2 separate regions of the Homo sapiens genome follow, and region 2 is linked to region 1. Evidence: fine-mapped expression QTL. A gene starts in region 1. The other region holds a variant in brackets. All regions are shown on one strand. Distances are from middle to middle.

Evidence for each region.
Region 2: its variant is fine-mapped to the expression of TMEM213 in prefrontal cortex (BrainSeq, PIP 0.95).

The regions. Positions count from the first base shown.
Region 1 is chr7:138,788,533-138,803,500 of GRCh38, reverse strand. TMEM213 (transmembrane protein 213) reads right to left here and starts at 5,507. Exons shown (of 3, transcript NM_001085429.2): 1 at 5,315-5,507; 2 at 2,103-2,174; 3 at 1-601. The coding sequence starts at 5,396. The coding sequence ends at 432. It overlaps ATP6V0A4 (ATPase H+ transporting V0 subunit a4), which reads left to right and starts at 5,305. Exons shown (of 22, transcript NM_020632.3): 1 at 5,305-5,467. RefSeq lists a silencer at 5,243-5,537.
Region 2 is chr7:138,829,016-138,843,983 of GRCh38, reverse strand. KIAA1549 reads left to right here. Exons shown (of 20, transcript NM_001164665.2): 19 at 3,706-3,851; 20 at 5,824-12,603. The coding sequence ends at 6,078. Among named protein-coding and RNA genes, the nearest start is that of ATP6V0A4, 38 kb to the right of the region's middle. RefSeq lists a silencer at 11,726-12,020 and an enhancer at 13,101-13,600. The variant A/G (reference allele first, on the strand shown) is at 7,104.

The sequences.
Region 1 (14,968 bases):
TGACTGATTCTCAGATTCTGAAATGACAGTTAAGCCCAGGACTCAAGCCAGGGACAGAAGCAGATAACCTGGTTTTGGTGAGAAGGTTATGCACTTGCTTCTGAAAATGTTGATGATGAGACTAAGTCTTATAGTTTCTTGTGCACCTCCCTTGGTGCCTAGAAGAAAGGTTAAAACAGGATACATTACAGAGGGACTATCTTGAGAGAGGAGTTACCTGGGCACAGCCCAGGGGCCCTTGGGAGTGACATGCAAGGGCAGCACTGGCTTGCCTTATTTGGTTCTCCCGCTCTTTCTTCTTTCCCTTGTAAAAGTAACTGAAGCTTAAAGGTGAAAATGACTTAAATAATAGAAACCATGTTAGCCTTACTCCCCTTCCCCATTAGCCACAAATTGGTGGCGATCACCATTTTGTGCACCGAGCCTGGGTCTCACGCTTGCAAGTCCTTGGGCTCATCTGGAGTCAGCTTCATCAGTTTGTCCACACAGAGCAGGATGAGGGTGAGGAACCAGAGGCTCCAGCCAACAGCTGCCGCGATCCAGCCGTACTCGTCCACTCCTGTGCGGCAGCACCGGGCTGCTTGTGGGCAGAAGTCCACGTCTGGTGGGGAAGGGACAGCAAGGACGACGGCATGCACCACCAGCCCTGCCCAGGCTTCTCTACCATTAATATTAACAGAACAATCACAGCACGGTAGCTGACACTGATGAGGCCTACTACGTGCCATGCACTGTGCTGCGTGCTTTTACACGTTAGCTTATGCCTTCCTCACAAAGCGACAGGTGCGACTTTTATTCCCATTTTACATGAAGAAACTGAGGCTGTAATTTGCCCAAGATCACAAGATGGCAGAAGAACTCAAACGCAAGTCTGCAGGACTCTGAAGCCATACTCTTAACCTCTATGTATTATTCCCTAATACCCCTTCCTTTTTTTTTTTTTTCTTTTTGAGACAGAGTCTCACTCTGTTGCCCAGGCTGGAGTGCAATGGCATGATCTCAGCTCACTGCAACTTCTGCCTTCTGGGTTCAAGCAATTCTCCTGCCTCAGCCTCCCAAGTAGCTGGGATTACAGGCACGCACCACCACACCCAGCTAATGTTTTGTATTTTTAGTAGAGACTGGGTTTTGCCATGTTGGCCAGGCTGGTCTTGAACTCCTGGCCTCAAGTGATCCACCCACCTGGGCCTCCCAAAGTGCTGGTATTACAGGCATGAGCCACCACGCCCAGCCTATCCTTCGTTTTAAGTGCCTAAGTTAATGCATTCGGTCATTCAATGAGGGCAGGATAAAGGGAACCAGACAAAATAAAGTGGAACTTTCTCTTTTTTTTTTGAGAGGGAGTCTCACTGTGTTGCCCAGGCTGGAGTGCAGTGGTGCAATTTCGGCTCACAGCAACCTCTGCCTCCCAGGTTCAAGCAATTCTCCTGTCTCAGCCTCCCTAGTAGCTGGCACTACAGGCGCATGCCACCACATCCAGCTAATTTTTTTCTATTTTTAATAGAGACAGGGTTTCACCATATTGGTCAGGCTGGTCTCAAACTCCTGACCTTAGGTGATCCACCTGCTTCATCTTCCGAAAATGCTGGGATTACAGGCATGAGCCACTGCGCCCAGCTGCAAAACTTTCTATTAGCTAGACATGCATAATAGTGGTTGCTCTATGAATTACTGAGCGCCTTGTGGCTAGAAGTAGGCAAGAAGAGGAAAAACGTGCATAGAAGAAGAAGAAATATGTATGCCAAGGACGCCAAAACCAAGCTGTTGCATTGGGTGGAAGTTGGACTAGATGATTTCTTATGGCCTTTCCACCTCCAAACTTCTTCAAGCATTTGAACCTAGGGCATTGTTAGCTGCTGACCTGGGATGGGTCATTAAAGCAATCTGTGTCAAAGATTGTGCACCTAGATGGGGATCAGAGCCAAGAAAGCCTTTCAGACCTGCTCTGCAAATAGTTCTGGGACAAACCACACTGGTGCACAGGAAGGCCAGGCAGGCCCTTGCCCACTTGACACCAATCAACGGAAAGCGGGGAGGCCTTTGTTTCCCTCCCAGGCTGAGGGCCAGTTCTGGGGTTAGAGCAGTTGGCAGGAGAAGCTTACTGAGGCACTGCTCCAGGGTCCCAGGGTCTGGGTGGTGAGCGGTCAAGCTTGAGCTGTTGCTGCTGCTTGCTTCTGGAAGAAAAGATAGGAGATAGTCTGAGGCACTGGCAAAAGCTATTCCCAGGCATAGATTTTGAAATGTTTTTTGTAAATCAGTAGTGAGTATTATGAAAGTATTATAGAAGCTCCCGCATGGGCATATTGAGGCTTTCTGCAACAAAGCTAACTCCCTGTTATGGACCGAATTATGTTCCCCTCTCCCAAGTTTCATATATTGAAGTCCTAACCCCAATGTGATTGTATTTGGAGATGGGACATTCGAAGAGGCAGTTAAGCTTAAATGAGGTCCTATGGGTGGGCCCTAATCCAATATGGCGGGGTCCTTATAAGATGAGGAAGAGGCCAGGTGCAGTGGTTCACACCTGTAATCCCAGCATTTTGGGAGGCCGAGGTGGGCAGATCACCTGAGGTCAGGAGTTCAAGAACAGCCTGGCCAACATGATGAAACCCTGTCTCTACTAAAAATACAAAAGCAGCCGGGCGTGGTGGTGCATGCCTGTAATCCCAGCTACTTGGGAGGCTGGGGCAGCAGAATTGCTTGAACCCAGGAGGCGGAGGTTCAGTGAGCTGAGATCACACCATTGCACTCCAGCCTGGGTGACGAGTGAAACTCCGTCTAAAAAAAAAAAAAAAAGAAGAAGAAGAAGAAGAAGAAGAAGAAACATCAGCAACACACATGCACAGAGAAAAGTCCACGTGAGAACCCAGTGAGAAGGCGTCTATTTGCAACCCAAGGAGGGAGGCCTCAGGAGAAATCAAACCATCAACACCTTGATCTTGGACTTCCAGCCTCCAGAATGATGGCTGTCAAAAAAAATTAAACATCATAGAAGCAAGCCCAGAGACTGCCAGAATACGCAGCACATAGATTGATTCATGAGCAAGGAGTGGAAAGATAAAAAGGACTTTAGCATGAATTGTTAAAGTCCTGTTGTCTTGAGGTGTGGGATTGGGTTAGGGATCTGAGGCATCCAGGTTCCTGTCCATAACTGACAATAAGAAGAGAGATGACCTCTAAGTCCATACTGTTCAATACGGCAGCCACTAGCCACCTGTGGTTGTTTAAATTTATTAAAATCAAATTCAGTAAAAAAAACTCAGCTTCTTGTTTACATTAGACCCATGCCAAGGGTTCCATTGCCGCGTGTGACTAGTGGCTACCATATTGGAAGCACCACTCAGACATGGGACATTTCCACCCTCAGTGCAAGTTCTATTATTAGACAGTGCTCATGCTGACCTAGGTAGATGGAAACCAAGAGATGGATTGGAAGAACCTTCCTAGAAATTATATTGCTGTTCGTTCTGCTTCTTGGGGAATGCAAAAAGGAAAAAAAAAAAAGTGGTGGGCATGGAAACTCTCAAGGTTCCCCTGGCTGTGGGTCAGTGTGTCCTTCAAGGGAGCTTGTTGTCACAGCAGGACGAGTTCAGAAGAAACCTGCTGTTTAGCTAAAGCCATGAAGTTGCTGCTGAGACTAATTTTATGCCACCCAACCCCCAAGCCACTCCAATGTCCTGCTTAAAGTATAGTAATTGCCTCGATGCAATCTGTTACTGTAAATTATTTACAGCTAAATGGCTTAGAGCCTGGTCTTTATTTGTTTTGGAGAAACTGATTCCTCACTATTCTAATTTTCCTTATGACTCAAATAACTTCCTTGGCCCTGACTTTCATTTCACCTCTACACCTAGAATGGAAGTTGTCCTCTTCCAAAGTGAGTGGAAAAAAACCCTAGTTGGCTGAATGCTAGGGTTAGGTTCGAGCTTATGAAATTGCCATTGTTATAGGTGAAAATTGTTCAATATCAGCAATTTTCTGTGGTTCAAATGGAATAGCCCCGGTGAAAATTCCTAAGAATTTAAACATCGCCCTCCTCCCTTATAAGCAGAGCCAGAAGCGAGGGAGGGACTGGCCCTACTTGGGGCTATTCCACAAGAAAAGCTGCTGGGAAGACCCAACGATTCAGTGCAGTTAAACTTGTCTTCTGATTCTGAGCTCCCATCATAAGCAAGGCACTGTCGGGGTAAGTAGAAAGAAACTCAGCACTCTTATTTGGGGAGGGGTGAAGTTGGAAAATAAAATGAATGTGCTTACCATAATTGCTGACATTCACTGTGTGTGTTCTATGGGCTATTTCTAAGTTCTTTACATGAAATTACATCAATTCGTCTTGACAAGCACTATGATTGTCCCCATGAGATAAAGGAGGAAACTTGGCATAGAGAGGTAAAGTCATTTGCTCGAGGTCGCATAGCTAGTGAGTCATGGAAGCTGGACCTGGGTTCAGGCTCAGCGGCTCAAGAGTGCACGTCTTGAACCTCAACACCAACACCCCTGGCAGTGGCTACAGAAGAGAGTCTGAGGATGAGAGGGGCAGACACAGGACTTTGGGGGCAGGGTTGGTTTTGGGAGCAGGAGTGTTGCAGGGCATAGAGAGTGTGGTGGTGTTCTGAGGTGGCTGAGAACAAGATCAAAGCCAGGAGCAGAAGATGGTAACCAAGGTCCCTCTGCCGTGAGTTGCAGAACCCGGCCTGGCAGGGCAAGGCAGGGGATGTAGATCAGCCTTCCAGCCTCCACAGGAAAATGGGGAGATAACCCAGCATTTCCAGTGCCCGGGGAGGCAGGAGGGTGGGAGACAGTGAATGGCAGCCCTCCTGGCAGTCAGGTTTTGTGAAAGTCGCAGAGAAAGTACAAGGGGCAGGGAGGGATGGAGGACTTAGGAAAGGGAAGGTCAGACACAAATGTGCACAGGGAGGATTGCAAAGCACGACAGCCCAGTGGGGCTGAGAAGGAGCCTTCAGGACACAGCGGACCAAGAGATATCATTTTGGTCCCCTGATGGGTGAGACTCCAGCAAATAACTTTTTCCTTTCTTTGTGGCAAAGGCCAAGAGAGGTGGCTGCTCCTGCCTTAGCTGAGGAATTGAGTATCTGATCTCCGTCTCAGGCCAACCTAAGACCCCCCCTGCCCCAGCCCCACCTCCCACCCCCTGCCTAATCCTTCAGATGAGAAAGTTCTGTTTCCTCCTTCCTTTGCGCAGGACCAACCCTGGCCAAAGAATCTTCCCCCTCCTCCTTCTTTCCCTCCCACCTCTCTTCCCTCCTTCCCTCCCCCTTCCCAGCCTGGCCATGAATAAAGCTCATAACGCTACCTGCCGAGCAAGCCGAGTGGAGGGAGGCAAAGGCCAGGCTGAGGATCAGGGTGGCCCGGGTGGCAGCGGGGAGGCGCTGCATGCTGGAGGCTGTGCTGAGTGCCCGGTGCAGGTGAGCCGGTCCTGCGGAGTTGTGCCGAGTGCCTGCTGCAGGTGAGTCGACTCCCACCTGCAGGAGCTGGAAAGCAACTCTGCCAGAGGTGAACTTATGCTGGGTGTTTGGGGGAAACACCATGGGGTGGAGCAAAGGAAACTTGGCCTGTCACACCTTCTCTCACCTCTCTAGAAGGGAAGCCAAACCGTTGGCTGAGGAAGGAAGGGAGGGGCAAGCTGTGCCCTTCTCCCCTGAGCGCAAATATTGTCCTTATTGAGAAACAAGGGGAGGACAAGAGAGATCTGTGTCATGCTGGTTCCTGGGACATGAGTTTGCTGCCTCTCCCATCTGCAGGTGTAGCATGGATGCTCAATTCCATTTGGGCCAATATTCACTGAGCACCCACTATGCTGAAGTTGGGAGATACCTGCTGTCGAAGTGCGTTAATTACAAACACGCATCATTCAACCCCAGAACCGTGTTTGAGGAATGGCTTGGGAGGATAAAGCACTGTGGGTTTCAACAGTGGAGGCCACATCTGCTGATGGGATGCTTCAAGAAGAAAATGGCATTTGAGGTTGGGCATGGGGGCTCACCCTGTAGTCCCAGCACTCTGGGAGGCTGAGGCAGGTGGATCACTTGAAGTCAGGAGTTCAAGACCAGCCTGGCCAAAATGGTGAAACCCCATCTCTAATAAAAATACAAAAATTAGCCAGGTGTGGTGGTGCATGCCTGTAGTCCCAGCCACTTGGGAAGCTGAGGCAGGAAAATCGCTTGAACCCGGAAGACAGAGGTTGCAGTAAGCTGAGATGCTCCTGACCCTGCATTCCAGCTTGGCCGACAGAGGGAGACTCCATCTCCAAAAAAAAAAAAAAAAAAAAAAAGAAAATGGCATTTGGCCTGGGCCTTGAAGGATGGCTAGAATTTTGACAGGGGGAGAGGGGAAGATGGCATTATAGGTAGAGGGACAGATGAGCAAAGGTCCAGAGGTAAGGAAGTGTCAGAGGGTGGCTGTACCAGCAGCACCCAGAAGCGCAGGTGAGCCAAGGCATGTGAGGTGGGGAGGCAAGAGGAGAGCTGTGGGCTAAGCTTCTGCGTGCCTGGTAGAGGAATTTGAAACAAAGTCAGGAAGCAAAGGGGAAGGTTCTGTAGAGATTTTGAGCTGAGGAGTAACTTGACTAGAGCTCTGCATTCCGTCTAAAACATTTATTGAAGACCCACATGTATATAAAAGGTCTCATCCTAGGCACTGGAGACTGAGATGACTGAGACACGCCTCTTCCCCTTGAGAGCACAGTGCAGCAGGGAACCAAACCCGGAAGAAAGAAATTTGATGCAACCTGGCAAGACTCAAATAGGGGTACCTTCCACTGTGATGGGAATAAAAAGGAGGATGGGATGAACTCTGCCTGAGAGGTATAGGGGAAGGATTCACAGAGAAAGTGACATTTGGGCTGGGTGCTGAAGTTTGTATGTGCAGATTAGAGTTGATGGGCTTTTCAAGTCAAAGGAATAGCACCTATAAAGGCGAGGGAATCGTCTGTGTGCACACAGCCTGCCATGTGTGGAAGTGTTCCTGCGCATGAATGGGCCTGGTAAGGGTGAGGGGTGGACTCCAGCTCTGTGGAAAGACATAGAAGGCGTGAGTAAGCCCCAAGGAAAGATTTCCTAGTGGAGTGTAACAGCCCAGGGGAGGCACTTTTTTCTAATTGGCTCTAAGATATAAAATAGTGGTGGCCTATGTTCCTGGATTTGGGGATAGGGCCAACGTGCCCTAGGAAGGGTGATTTTCAGTCAGTGCACAGAAGTCCAGTTTAGGCATTACCACTAGTTGAACATTAAACAGTTGCATGCCAGGCCAGGCTCTCGGTGTGGGGACCTGGGGGTGAGAAAGACCACACAGCCCTTGTGCTCAAGGAACTCAAGGTCCCCACAGAGAGGACGCTGCTTAGTAGAACAAATGCTGTCCTCGATGTTTTCCTCACAAGTAAACCCTGCAGTGGGCTTCACAGGGCAGGACTGATTTATCCAATGGGTACTAGGGATAACAGCGGTACGTGGAATCCCCAAGATTTCCAAGGATCTCAAAAATGTTTGAGACCTGAGAAAATATTCTCAGATCCAAAATTTGAAGAACAGACCAGGCATATTGGCACACGCCTGTCATCCCAACACTTTGGGAGGCCGAGGTGGGAAGATCACTTGAGCCAGGGAGTTCAAGACCAGCCTGCACAACATAGTAAGACCCTGCCTCCGCAAAACAAACAAAAAAAAACACAAAAAAATTACTTGGGTATGGTAGTGTGCACCTGTAGTCTCAGCTACTCAGGAGGCTGAGGTGGGAGGATCACTTGAGCCCAGGAGGTTGAGGCTGCAGTGAGCTGAGATGGCACCACTGCACTCCAGCCTGGGTGACACAGTGAGACCCTGTCCCCAAACAAACAAACAAAAATTTGAACAATCAAAAACTGGGCAAAATAAATGATTGTTTCAAAAGCAAAGTTATACAGTTCACTTGAAATGTTTAAACGGAAACGATTTAATGTGGGACGCTGGGTGCATTTTAATGTGTTTGACGTGAGCAGAGCCTGTCCCTCCTATGGAATCGGAACCTGAGGTATGCAAACATGTAAGATGGCCTGCCTGGGGTTATTGTAGTGGTGGATTGAACAGCATCTGCAGCCTAAGCTGAGACCATCCTATCAAGTCGTATCAGGGAAAGCTTTTCTGGCAAGCAGTGGATGTGGAGGAGGGGGATAATGTGTTGGCCCTCCCTCCCTATTTTATCATTGTTATGTGATGTCGGACTGTTTTAGATGAGCTGTTTGTAGGACAAACATTCTCCTATCTACAGATGGAAGAACTTTGTTATTCGAAAATAGTATAGGCTGGGCCAGGCACGGTGGCTCAGGCCTGTAATCCCAGCACTTTGGGAAACTGAGGCAGGTGGCTCATTTGAGGTCAGGAGTTCGAGACCAGCCTGGCTAACATGGTGAAATCCCATCTCTACTAAAAAAATTCAGAAATATTAGCCAGGCGTGGTGGTGCATGCCTGTAATCCCGGCTACTTGGGAGGCTGAGGCAGGAGAATCACTTGAACTGGGGAGGTGGAGGTTATAGTGAACCGTGATTGTGCCACTGCACTCCAGCCTGGGCAACAGAGTGAGACTCTGTCTCAAAAAAAAAAAAAAAAAATAGGGTGGGCTGGACTGGCCAATGATAACTATTAACCCCAAAGAAAGGGCTGTGTGTGTGTGGCCACTTTTTACTTTACGAGTGTCACCAGTATTTGCTGTTTGTAGCAGGTCTACAACTAACAACTCCATGTGGCCCATTTCCTCACTCATACATTTTGCATCAGGTTTACTTTGGAGCGCATATCAGGAAGTTGCCTTACTCAAAGCTAGACTTTCTCAAGACTTTTTTTTTTTTTAAATGGGTGAGATAGGTATTTGGTTACACACACTATTTTAAAAGTTCAGGCTGAAATGTCTGTGGCTAGGCACCATGGTGGTGGTTGGAGAGAGGAGTAGCCAAGAGAGTGGGATTCCAGGGCTCTTACTGCTTCCAATTTCACCTGTTATCCCTGATAAGATTTCATGTGAAAAAGAAAAGAAGTAGGCAGAGAGTTTCCAGGGCTAAAAGATGGAAAACCTGCAGTCTGTGGCCTGGAACGGCCCAGGGAAGAATATTTCATGTTAATGAAGCTTCTCTTGTGATTCTGATAGGCCCCGTTGCCACCTGTCCATCTCGGGGAAAAGACCTCTCACCTTGAACTTGGGTTTTTCATCTCCAGTTAACCCAAAATCTATTCAGAGGAGAATTGTGGCCCTAACCAAGCCTGTGCCTGCCAAGCCCCAGCTCCCTCACAGAGATGGGGTTGATGGCTCTTCTTGCTCCTGGCTCTGTCAGGATCTGTTTTTACAAAATAATGTCAGGCTCTGGGTGGTTGTGGGACCGAAACATCTAGATGTGGACCTGAGCAGCACTTAGTTTGTGGAGGAGTTAACCTCACTCCCTGCCCTTCAGTGATGGGTCTGTAATTTGGAGAGAACAAGAGGTTCCCTTTTAGGAAACCTTGAGAACTACAGCTGTTAAGATCATGCCATAGAGTTAGTTGATCAAAGTAAGAAAGTCAGCAAGGAAGTCCTGGAGTCCACCATTTGGAATAATTTTTGAACACTTCCCAGGATGACTAATTTAGCTTGTTCAAAATTGCACTGGGAGGCGGTGCAGCTATGGTCCAGACACGCGGAGGTTAACACAAAGGAGGTCCTTCCTCTTGGCGAAAACAACCTTCCACCTAGGTCCTGTATCTTATTCCCTCCCATCTTCTCTGAAGTATATTTCTTAATTTCCAAACATACGGAGGTTTTCTAGTTATCTTTTTGTTATTGATTTGTAGCTTAGTTGCACTGTGACCTGCGAATATACTTTGATGATTTCTATTTTTTGATGTTAGTTAAAAGACACCATATGACCAATTTTTGTGGCTCTTGAATGTGTCATGCAGTTGTGGGGTCAGTGCTCCGGGTAAGTCCATTAGATCAAGAGTGCTAATTGTGTGGTTCAGAACATCCATATTTTTCCTGTCTTTTAAAATTTGGTCTAATTATTCTGTTGAATACAGAGATGATTGCGGGTTTCTTTCTTCCCTGTAGTTTTGTCAACTTTTGCATTCAATATTTGAGGCTGTAATTGAGGTACAAACAAATACGGAATTTTGACAACTTCCTGGCAAATTGAACCTTCTTTTAAAAAATCATTGTGTAATATCCCTCATCTCTTTTATATTTTTGAGATGGAGTCTCTCTCTGTCGCCCAGGCTGGAATGCAGTGGCACGATCTCGGCTCACTGCAACTTCCACCTCCCGGGTCCAAGCGATTCTTCTTCCTCAGTCTCCTGAGTAGCTGGGATTACAGGCGTGTGCCACCACCCCCGGGTAATTTTTGTATTTTTGGTAGAAACAGGGGTTTCACCATGTTGGCCAGGCTGGTCTTGAAATCCTGACCTCAGGTGAGACTCCCGTCTCAGCCTCCCAAAGTGCTGGGATTACAGGTGTGAGCCACTGCGCCCAGCCTTCTTTATCTCTAGTAATGTTTTTTTGCCATAAACTTTACTTTGTCTGATATTGCTGTAGCTATAACAGGTTTCTTTTGTTTTGTTTGGCATGCTAAATCATTTTCCCATCATATTACTTTCAACTTTTCTAAAACCCTGTTCAAGATGGGAGGATTTCTTGAGCCCAGGACTGTGAGACCAGCCTGGGCAACATAGTGAAACTCTGTTGCTACAAAAAAAAAAACAAAACAACAAAAAAAAAAACAAACCTGAGTTTGGTGATGCAAGCCTGTGGTCCCAGCTACTCAGGAGGCTGAGATAGGAGGATTGCTTGAGCCCAGGAGATCCGAGATGGCAGGGAGCCATGATGGAGTCACTACACTCCAGACTGGGTGACAGAGTGAGACCCTGTCTCTAAAATTTAAAAACAAACAAATCAATCTATCAGCTTACCAAGTGCTCTCTACTCTTCCCATCTAGCTTATGTTCCTTTTCTCTTTCTTCTCACTACTTTTGGATTGAGTTGTTGGGTTATTCCATTTTGTAGAGATTACGACATGCATTCCTTTTTTGTTGCTTTTTAAGATTATTTTATTCTGCAACCCAGGAGCATAGATCCAAGTTACCCTGAATATATGTTCTCACAAGTGCATTCTTAACATATCAAAGTCTAATATTAATTGACACTTTCACCACTTTCATAGATAATATGAAGACCTCAGAACTTTAACTCCATTTACCCACTCGCCCAGGCTGGAGTGCAGTGGCGCTATCTCGGCTCACTGCAAGCTGCCTCCTGGGTTCACGCCATTCTCCTGCCTCAGCCTCCCGAGTAGCTGGGACTACAGGTGCCCGCCACCACGCCCAGCTAAGTTTTTGTATTTTTAGTAGAGATGGGGTTTCACCGTGTTAGCCAGGATGGTCTCGATCTCCTGACCTCGTGATCTGCCCACCTCGGCCTCCCAAAGTGCTGGGATTACAGGCGTGAGCCACCACACCTGGCCTATCCACTCCTGATTTTTATACCATTGTAGTCATGTATGTTAGTTATACACATAGTTTTTAACTCAATAAGTCATTATTATTATTATTTTCCAAGTGAATATATGAGTGAAATTTATTAAATTTATTTACATGTTTACCGGTTTATTGTTCTTAATTTATTTCTGCATGTCTGGTCTTCCATCTGTGATCATTTTCCTTCTCTTTGAAGAATACCATTTAGTATTCCCTCAGTGGAGTGATTAACATGTTACTTTGTTTGTCTGGATATGTTTTTATTCTTCCTTCATTCTTGGAAATCACCTTCATTGGGTACAAAATGTAAGGTTGGCAGATATTTTCTTTCAGTGCTTTAAAGATAACATTTCATTTCTTTTGGCTACCATTGTTTCTGTTGAGAACTGTCCACCTCACTGGGGCTTCATTGCAGATAATTTGCCTCTTTTATTTTTTGGCTGTTTTTAAATTTTTCTTTGCCTTTGGTTTTCAGCAGTTTTACTCTGATGTGCTGAAGTATGGATTCCTTTTTTGTCCTCTTTGGAGTTTGTAGGCAATTGGATATGGAGCTTGATGTTATTAATAAGTTTTGAAAACTTCTCAGCCATCAAATACTACTTGTGAACCATTCTCTCCTCTCTTTTTGTGACTGATTACACATAGGTTAGATCTTTCCACTCCATCCTGTAATTCTCTTACCTTCTTCTTTATTCTTTATCTTTTTGTTTTCCTGTGTTTTACTCTGGATATTGCCTTTTGCCCAGTCTTTTATGAAATCTCTTGTCATCTGTGTCTAATCCTCTTTTATAACTACCCATTGGGTTCTTAATTTCGATTATCTTAGTTTTAGTTCCAGAATTTCCATTCTGTTCTTTTTTATATTTTTTTTTCTGCCAAACTATTCAGTCCTGTTTTTCATCTTCATAAACAGAGGGGATATAATTCCTTTAAAATCCGTGTCTGATAACCTCAGTCTTCGCCATTCTTTTCCCATTCGTTTATTTCCATTGTCTATTATTTCTGCTGTTTTCATTCATATGATCATGTTTCTTTGCATACCTGGTTATTTTTTATTGTGGGCAAAATTGCAATTACATACTATTGTTTATAGAAATAACTTGAGACCCAGGATAATGCTTTCTTCCTGTAGACATGATTTTTGTTGTTGTTGCTTTAATCGAGTGCTTGGGGGCAACACAAATCTGCTATCATGTCATTCCGGTCTCAGGAATTGAGACGATGTGTGTCAGTTTATTTTGGATACCTTTCCTTCTATGGTGTAGCCCTTTAGAAATTTCATCCCCAAGGAAATAACCAAAGATGAGCACAAAAATGCATATCCAAAGTTCTCCATCTCAATATTACAATGTTTGTAAAAGTGAAAGCTTGGAAGCAGTTTATAATGAAATAAAGGGTAGCTATTAAAACCGTTTTTGGGACTGGGTATGGTGGCTCACACCTAAAATCCCAGCATTTTGGAAGGCCAAGGTGGGCTGATCACCTGAGGTCAGGAGTTTGAGACCAGCCTGGCCAACATGGCAAAACCCCATCTCTACTAAAAATACAAAAATTAGCCAGTCCTGGTGGTATGTGCCTGTAATCCCAGCTACTCAGGAGACTGGAGGCAAGAGAATCGCTTGAACCCAAGAGGCAGAGGTTGCAGTGAGCCAAGATCATGCCACTACTCTCCAGCCTGGGTTACAGAGCAAGACTCTATCTCAAAAAAACAACAGCAACAGCAGCAACAAAAAACATTCTTGGGTACCATTTAATCACTTGGGAAAACATTTGCCATAGTATACAAAACAGAAAAGCAGGATATAAATCTTTATGTCAATATAATTCCAGTTTTGTAATATATACACATATACAATGAAAAATGTTTGGAATGAATCCTCTCAAAATGTTAGTAGTAGTCATATCTAGGATGTACAGTTTTGGGTGGTTTTAATTTTGTTTTTAATACTTTTTTGTGTTTCCATTTTAAAATAATGAATGTGTATATTATTTTTATGATCAAGAAATAAAATCAAGTTAATACTTTTTTTTTTTTTTTTTTTTTTGAGACAGAGTCTTGCTCTGTCACCCAGGCTGGAGTGCAGTTGTGCAATCTAGGCTCACTGCAACATCTGCCTCCCGGGTTCAAGTGATTCTAGTGTCTCAGCCTCCCGAGTAGCTGGGATTACAGGCATGTACCACCATGCCCAGCTAATTTTGTATTTTTAGTAGAGACAGAGTTCTCCATGTTGGTCAGGCTGGTCTCAAACTCCCAACCTCAGGTGATCCACCTGCCTCAGCCTCTCAAAGTGCTGGGATTACAGGCGTGAGCCACTGCACCTGGCCTAAGTTAATACATTCTTAAAGATTATTTCACAGGAAAGCAATACAGTCACAATGAAGCAGACAGATTTTACATATCTGTCCCATTACCTGGGAAAAATGTTCAATATCAGGGAATCTTCTTTTCCATTAAAAAAACAAGCTGGCCAGGCATGGTGGCTCACGCCTGTAATCCTAGCACTTTGGGAGGCTGAGGTGGGTGGATCACTTGAGGTCAGGAGTTCAAGACCAGCCTGGCCAATATGGTAAAACCCCATCTCTACTAAAAATACAAAAACTAGGCAGGCGTGATGGTGGGCACCTGTAATCCCAGCTACTCGGGAGGGTGAGGCAGAAGAATTGCTTGAACCCAGGAGGCAGAGTTTGCAGTGAGCCGAGATTGCACCACTGCACTCCAGCCTGGGCAACAGAGCGAGACTCTGTCTCAAAAAGAAAAAAAGACAAAAACAACAACAACAACAAAAAAAAACCCCCCAAAAAACCTTAACCTTTAAGTTTCACATGGTGCAGATTACTGCCTATCATAGCCTCAGCTCTTGGAGTGCTCGTGGTCACAATGGAATGTACAGACATATCCACGGATGGTCAGGACACAAAGAAGACTAGAAAGAAGACACAGATATAACATCGGATTACAATTAGAATCTCAGTGTTGGAAAAGGACCTCAGAGACCATCCGGGCCAATCTTTAACCTTGGAAGAATGCCCTCTGAATTAATCTGTTCTCACGCTGCTAATAAAGACATATCCAAGGCTGGGTAATTTGTAAAGAAAAGAGGTTTACTGAACTCACAGTTCCACATGGCTGGGGAGGACTCACAATCATGGCAGAAGGCAAAGGAGAAGCAAAGGCACATCTTACATGGTGGCAGGCAAGAAAGCGTGTGAAGGGGAACTCCCATTTATAAAACCATCAGATCTTGTGAGACTCATTTCCTATCATGAGAACAGCACAGGAAAGACCTGCCCCCATGATTCAATTACCTCCCACTGAGTCCCTCCCACAACAAGTGGGAATTATGGGAGCTACAGTTCAAGATGAGATTTGGGTGGGGACACAGCCAAACCATATGACTTTCCTATAAGGAAAGTAGGATATTATAGAGTTTGGTATAGCTGCATTTGACCTGTCCTGCTTCTTAAGGTTGTTAGTTGGACT
Region 2 (14,968 bases), 40 kb before region 1:
GTGCTTTTTTCAGCTTGTAACGAACGACTCTCAAAGTCTGGGTGACAGAGCAAAACTCTTATCTCAAAACAAAACAAAAGCAAGTAGTTTAAGCCAATTCCAAATTTGCAATAATTGGTGGATATTTTTTCATTATGGTTTTTCTAGGAAATTCTTTTATTTTGCATTGTCTATTACTCAGCAAAAAAATAGTGTGTCCTGGAATCCTGTAGGTTTTCCTGAACTTTACAGGTGCTTTGCTTTGCAGTGAATCTTGATTCCCCTGCTAATTTTAGGTATTTGAACCTCCCTACATGGCATGCGTACTAAGCAAAATTCAGATGTATTAATTTTTAGTTTAAAATCTGAACGAATATAGAAATTATACATGTTTGATAACATTCAAAAGGAAATTATTTTTAAATTTCTATTAGGTGAAATTATGTAAAAACATATAATGGAAAATGTTAAGATCTATTAGAAGGATTACCTTTTTAACTATAGAAAATTATGAAGCATGTATTTGTCTGAAAATTGCCAGTTATTTTCAAAAAAAGAAAATAGTACCTAGGAGAAATTTACAGCACCTCACGATCAAGAAGTATTTTTATTGTAGAAGATACCTCATATAAATTAAGTGGGCCAACCTGAAAAGATCAGTGGGAGGAGGAAAAAGGTCCAGTTTTTAAATTATTTTAAAATTGCAAATTAACACCATAATGCACCATTTCAATCATGAAATTATTTTTATAATAATGTGGCATGGTAAAGTTAGCATCCAGTTTCTTCATCTATATGTACTGGGAATATTCGTACTTACCTCCTTGGTTGTTTAGCTGATAAAAGAAGATGACAGAAGTGCTCAAAATAGTGCCTAGCATAGCATAAACTTTCAATAAATATTAGCTGCCATGACCATTGTCACTATTATTTTCAGTGGTGGCATAAATTATTAAATTTTTGGAAGGCAGTTTGGCGGTAGGACTTACAGAGCCTTTGATTTGGTAATTCCAGTTCTGGAAATCCAGGCTCACTCTCCTAAAATCCAAAATATTGGGGGAAAATGACGTGCCAAGATATTTATCACGGCATTATTTGCATAATAGCAAAGAATTGTTAGTTTCCCCAGATACTCAGTAGTAAGGGCATCCTTGAGTAAATCCTGCAGCTACTTAAGATGAAGAGGTCATAAAAAGCCAGAAAAGGGGGATTTGAGATTTACCAGTTGCCTCCTATGTGTTTGATGCTTCATCTGTTTTATGTCTTTTAATCCTTGAAATAACCCTCTGAGGTAGATTTTTTTTTTTTTTTGAGACAGAGTTTTTGTTCTGTCGCCCAGGCTGGAGTGCAGTGGCACAGTCTCGGCGCACTGCAACCTCCGCCTCCTGTGTTCAAGCGATTCTCCTGCCTCAACCTCCCAAGTAGCTATGATTAGGATTACAGGTGCCCGCCACTGCGTCCGGCTAATTTTTGTATTTTTGGAAGAGACAGGGTTTCACCATGTTGGCTAGGCTGGTCGTGAACTCCTGACCTCAGGTGATCCGCCCGCCTCAGCCTCCCAAAGTACTGGGATTACAGGCGTGAGCCGCTGCACCCAGCTGAGGTAGATTTTTTATTCCTGCTGGAGAAGTGAGGAATCAAGGCTCAGCGGTAGCCATAGCCCGTTGCTCAGGGTCACATGGCTTGTCGATGGCTGAGCTGGAATGCAAACCCCGGCTTGCTGGGCTCAATGCTGACTCATGGGGGAAGCCTGTGCTGTATAGTTAAGTGAACAACACAGGATACAAAATCCTACCGAATGATGATTTCAGCTACTGGAGTGGCTTTACACAGAAGGTGTGCTTTTCTCCCTGTGCAGTTGGTTGAGCCTTTGGAAACAGGGAACACCGCGCTGCTCTTGCAGCATTTTGCAAGATTTGCTCAAACAACGTCTGTTGGGCAAGGAGTGCTGGTAGTCCTGATCATTTTAATACTGTTAGGATTTTTCAGTAACTGACCTGGTGCTCCAGTAGAGTGCATTGCTCTGCCCAGAGCCAGGACAGCTTTTCCTGACTTTTAGTTATCATTAAATATCCGAATAAAACCATCGAGGAGTTCTTTTTTTTTTTTTTTAAATGTGGTTGATTAATTGAGGTTGTCGGTCAGGTACGATAGCTCACAGCTATAATCCCATCATGTTGGGAGGCCAAAGTGGGAGGATCAGTTGAGGCTAGGAAGAGTTCAAGACCAGCCTGGCCAACATAGTGAGACCCCATCTCTTAAAATAAAGAATTGAGAGAATGGAGGTTATTAATTAGACAACTAGAGTAGGAATAGACTTAAAGACGGAGGAGGTGCCTCCTTTAGATATGGACGCTTGGAGCCTTTGTGGTTCCAGTCTGAGCATCACTGGTGAATTTGATGAAATTTCCAAATTTAGAAATAAGTATTCTATTTCACAGTGCTTAAGGATCACTTTGTTCGCCCTTAATTTGCAATATAGGTATATTTCCATACGACAGAAGTTGGTGAGGGAGAAAAACATTGTGTATTACCTGGCTTCCATAGCCACAGGAGGCTGCAGATGTCTGGGTATAGGGGGGTAATTAGCTCTAGAGAGTCCTCTGGCTCTGCCATCAGCTCACCGCACCAGTGAGGCTGGGGGAGTGGTTTTAATTGTCTTGTGGCTACATTACAGACACAATATGGGTTATAATGAAAATATACTTCAATATGCTGAATTTAAATAGATACGTATTCTGCCTTTTAAGGGGAAAAAAATAAGCATATTGTATAACCAGCTCCTTGTGAATCTCGAAGCCACAAGCAAGAAAGAGCCAGGCTTCAGCTTCATGGTGGCTCCCAAACCTGTCACCCCTTTCTTAATAAATGAGCTGCTCCTTGTTGGTAACTGCCACAGAGATGAATGGAAGTACCTTCTGTGGTACCGTTTATCCCCAGTCCTAATGTCTAGCCACGAAAATAAGGGCATCACTGTCAGCCTCTGAATTAAAAGAAAATCAGAGTCCAGGAACCAAGAAGCTTATGGTCTGTTGCTCTTAGGAAATGCCATTTCTGGAGATAGAACTGGTACCAAGTCATGATCCCTTGTCCTTAAGGAGTGCAGTGATCAGAGCTGACAGTGTCTTCTGACAGGGTGTTTCCAAAACAGTTGCATCAGGGGTGGGATTGTGGTTCCACTGGGGCTGTTGTGGTGCTCACAGGGAGGAGGGGTCACCCTCACACAGTGTTTCAGGAGAGGAGCCCGTGGGCTTTCTGATGGGCTGGTAGAAGTGCGCAGGAAAGAGGAGTGGCGCATAGGGTGTAGGTTTTTAGATCTGAGCAAGTAGGGCTGCACAGCCCTGGGTGGAAATGGGGAGGGCGAAATGGGGGACAGACTTAGGCTTAGGGATGAATGTCACGGGGTCAAGAATTCTGTTTCAGACTTTTTTTGCAATGGGATTTTCTTCTTTTATTTGTTTATTTTTATTGCTTGGTCCACGGTGCTTCGTGGTACATTTTCCTACCGCTTCGTGGTGCATTTCCTTACCTATGGGACCCTCAGGAAATGCTGACAGTATGGCAGTTGAGGTGAGATTTCTGGAGATAGAACTGGTACCAAGTCCTGATCCCTTGTCATTAAGGAGTGTAGTGGTCAGAGTTGACAGTGTCTTCCTCGGCAGCCATCCTCAGCAGCCATACTCTCCTATAAATGTTGACCAGGCCACTCCACCATGTTCCTTCCAGGCTCCCAGATCCAGCACCTGACACAGGTGGGGATTGCCAGCAGAATTGGAGCTCAGCCAGTGGAAATCCCGCCAAGCAGAGGCAGCCAGTATGGGGGGCCAGGCTGGCCTTCGTACGGGGAGGACGAAGCGGGGCGAAGAGAGGCCGTGAGTATCTCCTGTTTGGGTCATCATTTAAAATTTAGACATAGGCCAGGTGCGGTGGCTCACACCTGTAATCCCAGCACTTTGGGAGGCCGAGGCGGGCGGATCACGAAGTCAGGAGTTTGAGACCAGCCTGGCCAATGTAGTGAAATCCCGTCTCTACTAAAAATACAAAAAAAAATTAGCCAGGCGTGGTGACGGGTGCTGGTAGTCCCAGCTACTTGGGAGGCTGAGGCAAGAGAATCACTTGAACCCGGGAGATGGAGGTTGCACTAAGCCGAGATCGTGCCACTGCACTCCAGCCTGGGTGACAGAGTGAGACTGTCTCAAAAAAAAAAAAAAAAAAAAAAAAAAAAAGACATAATCCCTCAATTTAGCAGCTTCTGCTTTGGGGGGGGTCCCTTTTTAAAACCTACATTTAAAAAAGTTTTAATCTCTCTCACATTTTCCTGCCTCCTGGTGTTTTGGCTTACAGTTTTTAGCATCTAGCTTTTAGGAAGTATATAATTTTTCTTGAGGCAGAGTTCAAGCTTTCAGTAGTAAATTCGAATCTATAGGTGACAACTCTGGAGTTCATGTTTGGCGGGATTGCTGTATAAATATTCATGCTCTTCCACAGCATTTGTGTTTCACTGTGGGTTTGTTAATGTCATTTGTATTATGACCATGTGTAGGTAATTTTGTAATAAGCACACAGTTGGGGACATTTTAAGGCACAGGTTTTCTTTTTGAGACTTCTGTTCACTCAATATGAGCATCGGTAATTCCTACAAGTGCTTTCATTTGCTTTTCTCAAGAACTGTATATCTTGGGGGGATAAATTCATGAAGTTTGAAAATAACCACCCAGAATATTACTTTTTGTTTTCTCCTTATCGTTATGCTACAGTGTCTGTTGCATTTCTGTGCCTTCCCAACAGACACACTCAATTCCTTTCATGGCTGGATGCTCTTACCTAGTAAAAAGACATTAACTTTAGAATAAGGTGCTTCCCTAAAAGAGACATTGTTATACTTAGAGTCTCAGGTATCTGCTTTAAGTTTGCTGCCATTTCTCTTTTTTTGCCTTCATTTTGCCCAGCTTAGCTTCATGAGGTGTTTGGGGTTGGTTTTGGTGTTTTGTTTTTTTGAAAAAATGGAGGCAAGGTCTCACTATGTTGGCCAGGCTGGTCTTGAACTCCTGGCCTCAAGCAATCCTCTCTCCTTGGCCTCCCAAAGGATTGGGGTTACAAGTATGAGACACCGTGCCTGGCATGGTGTGTTAAGGTTTTCCTGTCACATCCACTTTGGAACACTGCTCGGTCACTATTTGGAGAAGTGAAACGTAGAAAGAACCTAGAGCTGGAATGTCATGTTTGGCTCACAAATAACTTAGCCCTAACATGGTTTTTAGTACGCAGATTTAAGTACTCTTACATATAAATGCAAAGAGACATTTATTTCCACTGGGAGAGAAATAAACATGAAAAAAAAATCTGAAAAGTGTAATAATTCTTGTGAAACTCCTGCCAAATTAATCTCTATGCGGCAAATATCAGCAAAACTATTTTATGCTTTAGTGCAGATAAGTTTTTAAAGACAAGGCTCTACAGAGCCCTCAGTAGACACACACTCACGCAGAGACAGGAGACAGACAGCAGCTAGATAAAGCAGAAGATGGTTGCGTAGGCTCCAGTCCAGGGCAGAGGCACCTGTTCCCCTTGTCAGCCTGGCATGGATCCGCTTAACCTCCTTCAGCTCTCAGATATCACCCGACCTTTCACATCATGGGGCACTCCAGCCTCCCTCCCTTCTGTTCTCCCCAGCCCCCTGGTGTCTTCACGCCTCACCTGCAGCATAGGCAGCAGGGCCCTGTTAGAGGGCTGAGTTGGTGGATGGACGTGGGCAGTCCTGGGAACCTTCCTAAAGCCAGTTTGCATTTGATGTTTCGGCTTATTCTTCGTAGGAAGTACAGTGACGTTTGCCATGTTTTTCAGACACACATGCTCGGACATCAAGAGTATTCTTCTTCACCGCTATTTCAGGTGCCAAGGACTTCAGGCAGGGAGCCCTCAGCTCCTTCCGGGAACCTCCCCCACCGGGGACTGCAGGGCCCTGGGCTGGGTTACCCCACCAGCTCCACGGAAGACCTCCAGCCTGGCCACTCCTCGGCCTCTCTCATCAAAGCAATCCGCGAGGAGCTCCTCCGGCTCTCCCAGAAACAGAGCACCGTGCAGAACTTCCACAGCTGATCGGCCTCGCCTCGCAGATTTGCCAAGTATCCGCTTCCTGTGGAAGCAAGACCAAAAGGAAATCAACTGAGTGGGTGTTTGGAAGAGGAAGGAGCAACTCTCGGGCAGCCTGCCCAAGGGAGGGAGCAAGTTGCAATTTAGAAGATGCCATACGTCGTGTGACAGCTCATGAGCCTTTCACTGGGCTGGCAATTGTCTGAACACTTGGGTTCAGTTGAAATATATGTATTTTGGCCAAAAGCCAGCAGCACTTCACAAAAACAAAACACAAACCTAAGCTAACAAAATGACTGCATTCGTCTCTTTTTTAAAGGTAGAGATTAAACTGTATAGACAGCATAGGGATGAAAGGAACCAAGCGTTTCTGTGGGATTGAGACTGGTACGTGTACGATGAACCTGCTGCTTTGTTTTCTGAGAAGAGGTTTGAAGACATTTTATTAACAGCTTAATTTTTCTCTTTTACTCCATAGGAACTTATTTTAATAGTAACATTAACAACAAGAATACTAAGACTGTTTGGGAATTTTAAAAAGCTACTAGTGAGAAACCAAATGATAGGTTGTAGAGCCTGATGACTCCAAACAAAGCCATCACCCGCATTCTTCCTCCTTCTTCTGGTGCTACAGCTCCAAGGGCCCTTCACCTTCATGTCTGAAATGGAACTTTGGCTTTTTCAGTGGAAGAATATGTTGAAGGTTTCATTTTGTTCTAGAAAAAAAAAATCCCTCCCAAAGTGGGGCAAAAAGCTTTATATTTATTTGATTATCCAAAATACAGATCAAAGTTTAGATCTACATTCTTCATTGTATTTGCTGTTTCTTAATTGGGCACACACAACTCCTGGTCATGTCCCAGTTCAGCACCGATCGCTAAGGCCGATCCTGTAGAATGCGGCTTTCAAGAGGTCCTAACTGATCCTTTCTTCCACTTTGCTGTTGATTTGTTCACAAATTATGTCTGAATGAGAAATCTTCTGTAAGCAGAAGTTATTTAATAATTCCCAGCACCACGAAATTGTTATAC[A/G]TACATCCCTACCAGTCACATTCCCTGTGTTCAGAGCCTGGAAATGAAATTGAGTTCAGTTCAGCCTCTCTGTAATGAATCAAGAAATGTAAAAGAGCTTTGAGACCCCAAGGGAAAGGAGAGAGTTGCTTCTCATTTCTGATTTTATTGTGCTGTTACTCTGTCGAGTGGCTATTAAAATTGTCTTATGCTCTTTGGGCTAAGAGGGGATCATCTCGCTTAAGATGTACTCCTGATGTAAACATTTCCCCCACTTTCCAAATAATGGTAAAGAAAACAGTGGCAAGGGCTGTTCTGTTTTCTGGTACCTGAGTGAAACTCAGAAGAAAAGCAGGCTTAGCTAAGAGATTTTCACTATTAACCTGTTTTTATTAGATCAGCGAAGACAGTCATGCATCGCTTAATGATGGGGATGCATTCTGAGAAATGTGTCATTAGGCTGTTTTGTTGCTGTGCCAACATCCTAGATTGTACTTACACAACCTACATGGTATAGCCTACTACACACCTGGGCTGTGTGGCATGGCCTATTCCTCTTAGGCTACAAACCTGTACAGCATGTTACTGTACTGAACACAATGGTAAGTATTTGTGTATCTAAACATAGCTAAACATAGAAAAGGTATGGTAAAAATACAATTTTATAATCTTATGGGACTACCATCAATATGTAGACCGTCATTGACCAAAACATCCTGATGTGTGCATGACTGTACTTTTCATTAAATAACAGATAAGGGGCTATAGAATTTGGGGCTCTGACTGATCAAAACCTGTGTATCTGTGTCAAGTTTTAAGACCCCTGAAACAGCTAAAACAGGTTTCCAAAGTGTAATCACTGGATTTCAAAACCATGTTTTAGCCCTTCATTAATGAAGCCTGTTGTACAGATTTAGAGTCTTACAATATGAGGGAAGTTGGTTCTGGGAAGGTAAGATGTAGCCAGTTTTCATCTGGGCACCTCTGAAAGAGAAGGAGTGCAGGAGAGTAAGTCTCTCAAGGACGTTCAACAAAGGACCAGCAGCATCTTATCAGGCGATCCTCAGAGGCTCCAAGGAGCATTGGAGAGAATGCCCCTTTCTGGGCTTGATGTCTTGGTTTTGGTTTAATACCAAATTTCTCTTGGTCTTGGTTTAATACCCGACTCCTCCCAAATTGAACGATTATCTTTGTATGTCACTCAAAAATACCAGGTTTCCTGAATATGTTATTAAGAATTTCAGATATCCAAGCAGAATTTTATTATGGACACCTTGTAATGAATTCAAATCGTGTGACAGCAAACGGGATAAATGGCCCCTTCTCACCCAGTTCCGCTCAGGGCCATACAGGCTTGCACATAGAGTGTGCTAAAAATGGTAACCTCCTTTGAGCATTGCAGAAAGAGGGTTCTGTTTCAAATTGGGCTGACCGTAAAAGCAATTTTGATGTCTTTCAAACTACCATAAAGGGATTTTAACTGTATTTTTATTCTTAGAAACAATACACCTTTAAACAGATGTCAAGACCAAAGATGATGTATAATAAACAGCCGGTGGTTATGGTGTGGTGTGAGCAGGCCCCCGGATCACCAGCCCTCTGCTGGTGGTCATAAAGCACACACAGTTTGTACTTGCTTCCTCTCGACGCCTGCCACAACAGTTTTGCCAGTCACCAAACTCAGAAAAAACTAGCTGTGTGAGCAGCACCGTACCCTAGCGGTCTTCAGACATTAAGTTCACGTCATCCACTGAAAGGAAGGGTCCTTGCGTTGACAGCGTGTGGCTTTGGAGTCCGTTTATGGAAGCACTCTACAATGAACAGTTGAATTTTATGTCTATTCTTTTTTCCTATTTTAAAAGTTCTAGTGGTAACACAAACTGTAAATTTGAGTCAGAATGTTTGGAGAAATGTTGTTTTTTTTTTTTTCAGAGACTACTTTGTCACTCACTGACCATGTCTGGTTCCTTCTCTGAACTTCATTCTCCCCATAAGCCAAACAAGAACAGACCTCCCCCGCCACCTCCCAGGCACCGTAGTTGTGAGAATCAGATGTGATCATGTGTGCAGATGTCCTGTGAGGAGGGAGCATAAAGCACTGTGAAAATGTAGCATGCTGTCTATGTGGACGCCCTAGGATGAGTGATGTGAAACGCTGCACTACTGCGGTGAATGGGTTCACACATGGGTAATGAGCAAAACCGAAAGCTCGGTGTGACTCAGTTTCCTCACTCCCATTTTGCTTTAATTTCACTTCCTTCACCAATTTTCCGATTGCATTTATTAAGCATCTTTCTGCTCCCGACTTTCTGGTGTCTCTGGCACCAAATAACCCAGCAGACATGAGCCTTGCCTTCTGAGATTTTAGAATCTAAGATAGCACGAGTGGGTATAGAAGATGGAAGATACCGATAAATAACATGGTTTAAGTGTCAATAAAATTCATTCGAAGAGATCAGGCGCGGTGGCTCACGCCTGTAATCCCAGCATTTTGGGAGGCTGAGGCAGGTGGATCACTTGAGATCAAGAGCTTAAAACCAGCCCAGGCAACATGGCAAAACCCCGTCTCTACAAAAAAATACAAAAACTAGCTGGGTGTGGTGGCGCATGCCTGTAGTCCCAGCTGAGGCACGATAATTGCTTGAACCCGGGGGGTGGAGGTTGCAGTGAGCTGAGATTGCACCACTGTACTCCAACCTGGGCGACAGAGCAAGACTGTGTCTCAAAAAGAAAAAAATTTGTTCAAAAGACATAAATGAATTAGGCACCCAGAAGAAGTTGCATGTTTGGAAATGCAATATCTTGGGGAGACGTCAACTTCTGAAGTGACTTTGAAGGCAGGGCAGCTACCCAGGCAAATGGCGTGGAAGGAAGAGCTGAGAGTGGGCCTGGGAAAGGCTGTAGGGAAGGAGTGAAGCTGTCACTGAAATGAACTTGATCTTGATCTGCTTTGATATGGGGACAGAATCCCCGACTGCACTATTGAGGGAGTTTCAGAAGAGAAGGAAGAGGTGCTGGAAGGATGCTTTTGCAGTCATGCAGCAAGGAAACGACCAGGGCTGTGAAGATCTACAGAGGAAGTACTCCAGTGTGGGGGAGGCAAGGGAAGAGGACGAAAATGATGAGAATGACACTGAGGTCATTGTTTAGAGCAGATCTCAAGCAGCCGTTTGGCCACGCCATATCCTTTGTGGAGCATAGTGGGTTATCTATCTGTCTGTCTGTCTATGTATCTGTCTATCTATCTATATATATATTCAGCTTCTTTACTGCTACCTACACATTTTTCTCCAAATTTTATTAATTTCATAGTGTTTTGATTTGGGTGGCAGATGACTTTTAAGCAGTGGGTGTTTGCCGGCCAGATCTTTCCTGGCATGCGGACTGTGAGGCAAAGCACGGGTGAAGGTAGGCGCTAAAGGCTTTGGGCTAAAGCCAGCACGCGGTTCTGTGCTATAGGAGTCTCCCGTTTCCCGTGGACAGGTTCAGCGTTCCTTCTTTCGCACAACTTTTTTCTAAGTGTTCCAGTGACCAAGCCAGTCATTCGGACACTGATTTGCAGTGCATTGGCAGTAATTCACAAATTAGTTGTTATATAAGTCTCTCTCATCCCTTTCACACTAGATTCTCAGACATGAATGAATTTGTCGTTTGGAAGGAAAGCTGGGTAACGTTTTGGGCACAGGGGAAGGAGGACTCCGGTCTTAACTCCCACGCTAACTTTAGCTCAAGTGGAGTTTTCACCGTGGTCATTTCTACCTCCGGAGCAAGGTGCCAGCGCCAGTACTAGAGCCTGCTTATCCACATTTGCCCTGGACAGGAGCAGGAGGAAGTCCACTTCTGTACCGGCAGACAGAGCATGTGAACACAAAACACATTTCTATGGCATAGTCAACTGAACTTCATTTTTACATTTAATCTAACATGTTAACACGTTCTAACAGGGTTTCTATGAGCAGCTGCTGTAACATACTCATCAACTATGATAGACTTAACACTTGTTACCTAATGAACAAGGAGGATGTGCATTTCGGGTTTCTTTTGATATTCGTGGAGGTGATTGTCAGTGTTTAAACAGGACTACTTTCTCCACTATGAAGATGACTTGGAAATCGCAACATCATGGTACATTGCTAAGTCCATGCTTGTGTGTGTGACAGTAGGCTTGATAATTTATCTTAAAACACAGCAGCATTGAAATTTAGGAAAAGAATATTAAATGCCTTTGGAAACATGAAACAAAGTTAGGAGCCAGTAAGAAAGTGACAGAAGCAATGAATGTCTTAATGCAGTATAGTTAAAATGGCTTCCCACAGGGTAGATAATTATCCAGGATCCTTCCTTTTCCTTCTTCCTCCAGGTTTTTCAGGGGTCACTTCACATTTCTAAAGAAAGAGTGAATAGGCTGGGCATGGTGGCTCAAGCCTCTAATCTCAACGCTTTGGGAGGCTGAGGCAGGAGGATCGCTTGAGGCCAGGAGTTTGAGACCACCTTGGGCAACATAACGAGACCCCGTCTCTACAAAAAAAATTTAAAAATTAGCTGAGCATGGTGGCATGTGCCAGTAGTCCCAGCTACTCGAAAGGCTAAGACTGGAGGATCGCTTGAGCCAATGAGTTGGAGGCTGCAGTGAGCTATAATCACGCCACTGCACTCCAGCCTGGGCTGCAGGGTGAGGTCCTGTCTCTGGAAAAAAAAAAAAAAAAAAAAGGAATAGGTAAAAGGGACAGAGGTGAAATTTTGAGTGACTTGAGTCTCTTGCAGTCCCTGATTACACAGAACCTTTCTGGGCTACTTGGAGCATCACGAATAGTCTTTCCTGTACTTACCAGATTTCAAGTATTCATAACTTGACTCCCTAAGTGTACAAGTTGGGAATAGTACAGGGCCAAGTTCAAGTCGCATATGCTGTACTGTTCCTCCTGCAAATGTGGGGAAAGAAGAGGGAGATACTAGAGGAACTGAGGCTCCACCCATTCATTCAGTTGCTCTAAGCACCAGAGGACTTGTTTCAGAAAAGGGGAGTGGGAACGCCCTCGACTTTGCCCTCCTCCGGAGCATCTCTGGGACGCAGGGAGTCTGGCTAGCGTTAATAGGAAAGGTTGCTCGGCAGAGCTGCCCTGGAGTACTGACTTGTCTCTCCCTCCTTTGTCAAGGTCCATGTTTTTCTGGCTCTTCCTGCACACTCATCCCTAGATTATGAGCGTTAATGTACGAAATGTGCAGAGCAAATTGAGGCCAACTGTGGCATCAATACTGCAACTTAAACTTGACAATCATGGTTTGCTGGTCCTCAAACAGGCACTGAAATCTCAGTATGGGTATACGATTTAATAATCGGCCCCTCCCTTCTATTTGTCGGTTTTATGTTTCTATCCTTCAATAGCTGCACTGTTTTCTAATGTGCTGTAGAGTTTTTGAAATAATTTATGCAAGTATTTGGTTTCCATGTTTACAATTTATACAGCTTTCCTAGCATTTTAAATGGAAATGTCAATAAATGCTATGAATTGGTGTCAAAGTGATATTTTCTGTTGATTTCCTTTGCAACATGATAGTTTTCTCGTTTGTAAAACATGAAACATTGGATGAGATGATCTTTCTGTTCTCTAATTTTGTGTCTCTGGTGAGAACACCCAGTACTTTTGTTACTGGTGGAGGGTGTCCAGGTTCTTGGCGTCTTGAACAAAGAGTTGGACAAAACACACAAAGCAAGGAAAGAATGAAGGAATTTATTGAAAATGAAAATACACTCCACAGTGTGGGAGCAGGCCTGAGCATAGGGGCTCAAGGGCCCGGTTACAGAATTTGTGGGGGTTTAAATACCCTCTAGGGGTTTCCATTGGTTACTTGGTGTACGCCCTATGTAAATGAAGAGGTTTAAGTAAAGTCACACAGTCATTTACTCGACGTACACCCTATGGAGAGGATGTTTCCTGTCATAGCTGAACTGTGGCTCGGCCTTATGTCCCCTACTCCAGACCCCATTTTCCTGCCTCACTTTCATTGTCCAAGAAATTAAGTTGAAGGTATTCTATTCAGTGTGTGGAATTTGCAGACTTGTTTTCACTCGTTTTTGCCTGTGCCAATCCTTTCTACTCAGTGTAGTTTGACTGCTACCCACTTAGCAAATGGATGAATCCACTAAGAGCAAATTCAGTTTGGAATTAAAAGATTAGTGCCTCACAATTTAGAAAGATGAGAAGACCAAAGTCCACACAGTCTTGAAAGGTAATAGGATAACCCTGGAGTTGTTTACACAACCCAAGAAAACAAGATCCCCTTGAAACTTAGAAAAGGGGATGGGCGCTGTTTCTCACGCCTTAATTCCAGCACTTTGGGAGGCCGAGGTGGGTGGATCACTTGAGGCCAGGAGTTCAAGACCAGCCTGGCCAACATGGCAAAACCCCATCTCTAATAAAAATACCAAAAAAAAATCAGCCAGGCATGGTGGCGGGCGCCTGTAATCCCAGCTACTCGGGAGGCTGAGGCAGGAGAATTGCTTTAACCCAGGAGGCAGAAGTTGCAGTGAGCCGAGATCGCGCCACTGCACTCCAGCCTGGGTGACAAAGTGCAACTCTGTCTCAAAAAAACAAAAACAAAACTTGGAAAAGGAACTCAAAACACAGTGGAATATAACAGCTAAATGACACAGAATCCTGGATAGGATCTTGGAATGACAGCAACAACAAAAGAGAATATAGTGGGAAAACGTGAAATCCAAATCAAGTCTATAGTTAACAGTATTGTACAAAGATTAACGTACTGGTTTTGCTAACTTTATTATGGTTATTGAGATTTTAATATTAGAGGAAGCTATGTAAAAGGTATCCTGAAACCCTCTAAATCATTTTTGCATCTTTTTATCTTTTTTCTAAATCTAAAAGTATTTAAAAATATAAACACGAATCTGGCACAGGTAAAGCCCACAGACCTTCTGCAGAGGCTCATATAATCCTGTCCTGTGCATCCACAACCCAGGGGCTCTGGTACTTCTCAGGGCGAGCTGCTAGCTTTGAAACCACAGTTAACAATTGCAAGTCTTGGCAGAAAATAAACCTTCAAGAAGGAGGGCTGGTGGGGTCAACCAAAAGGAGAATTTAAACCTAAAAATCCAAGAAAATAGGCCAGTATGAAAGAGATAAATAATACGTTAGATGTTTAAAGAGGTTAAAAAGAACTAAGAACAGGATATTATGTAAAAGTCTAAGCAAATTTGCCGAAACCAAAAATAAGTTCTCAAAAGGGATTTATTTTATTTTATTTATTTATTTATTTTGAGACAGAGTCTCGCTCTGTCCCTGAGGCTGGAGTGCAGTGACGCAATCTCAGCTCACTGTAACCTTTGCCTCCCAGCTTCAAGCGATTCTCATGCCTCAGCCTCCAGAGTAGATGGGACTATAGGCGTACTCCACCACGCCTGGCTAATTTTTCTATTTTTAGTAGAGGTAGTGTTTCACCATGTTGGCGGGCTGGTCTCGATCTCCTGGCCTCAGGGTGATCCACCCGCATTGGCCTCCCGAAGTGTTGGGATTACAGGTGTGATCCACACTGCACCCGGCCAGAAAAGAAATCTTTAAAAAAGACAATATACACACAACGGTCAGATATTTAATATTTTACACATAACTGAAGAAATAACTATAACAGTTTTAATAATTTTATGTTTTAATCTAACTTTAGATGGAAAACAACAAAAATAGTGGAAACTAACTGGTAGAACTCATTACAAGATTTTATATGCTCTGAATGTAAATAGGTTTGAAATGACAGAAGAGCAGGGAGTTACTAGAAACAGCTAAGACTTACAAGAAAGGGCAGGCTGATCCCACGCTCAGAGCCTGAACCCCCAGTTCAAATGAATATAACCAGGCGCGGTGGCTCAC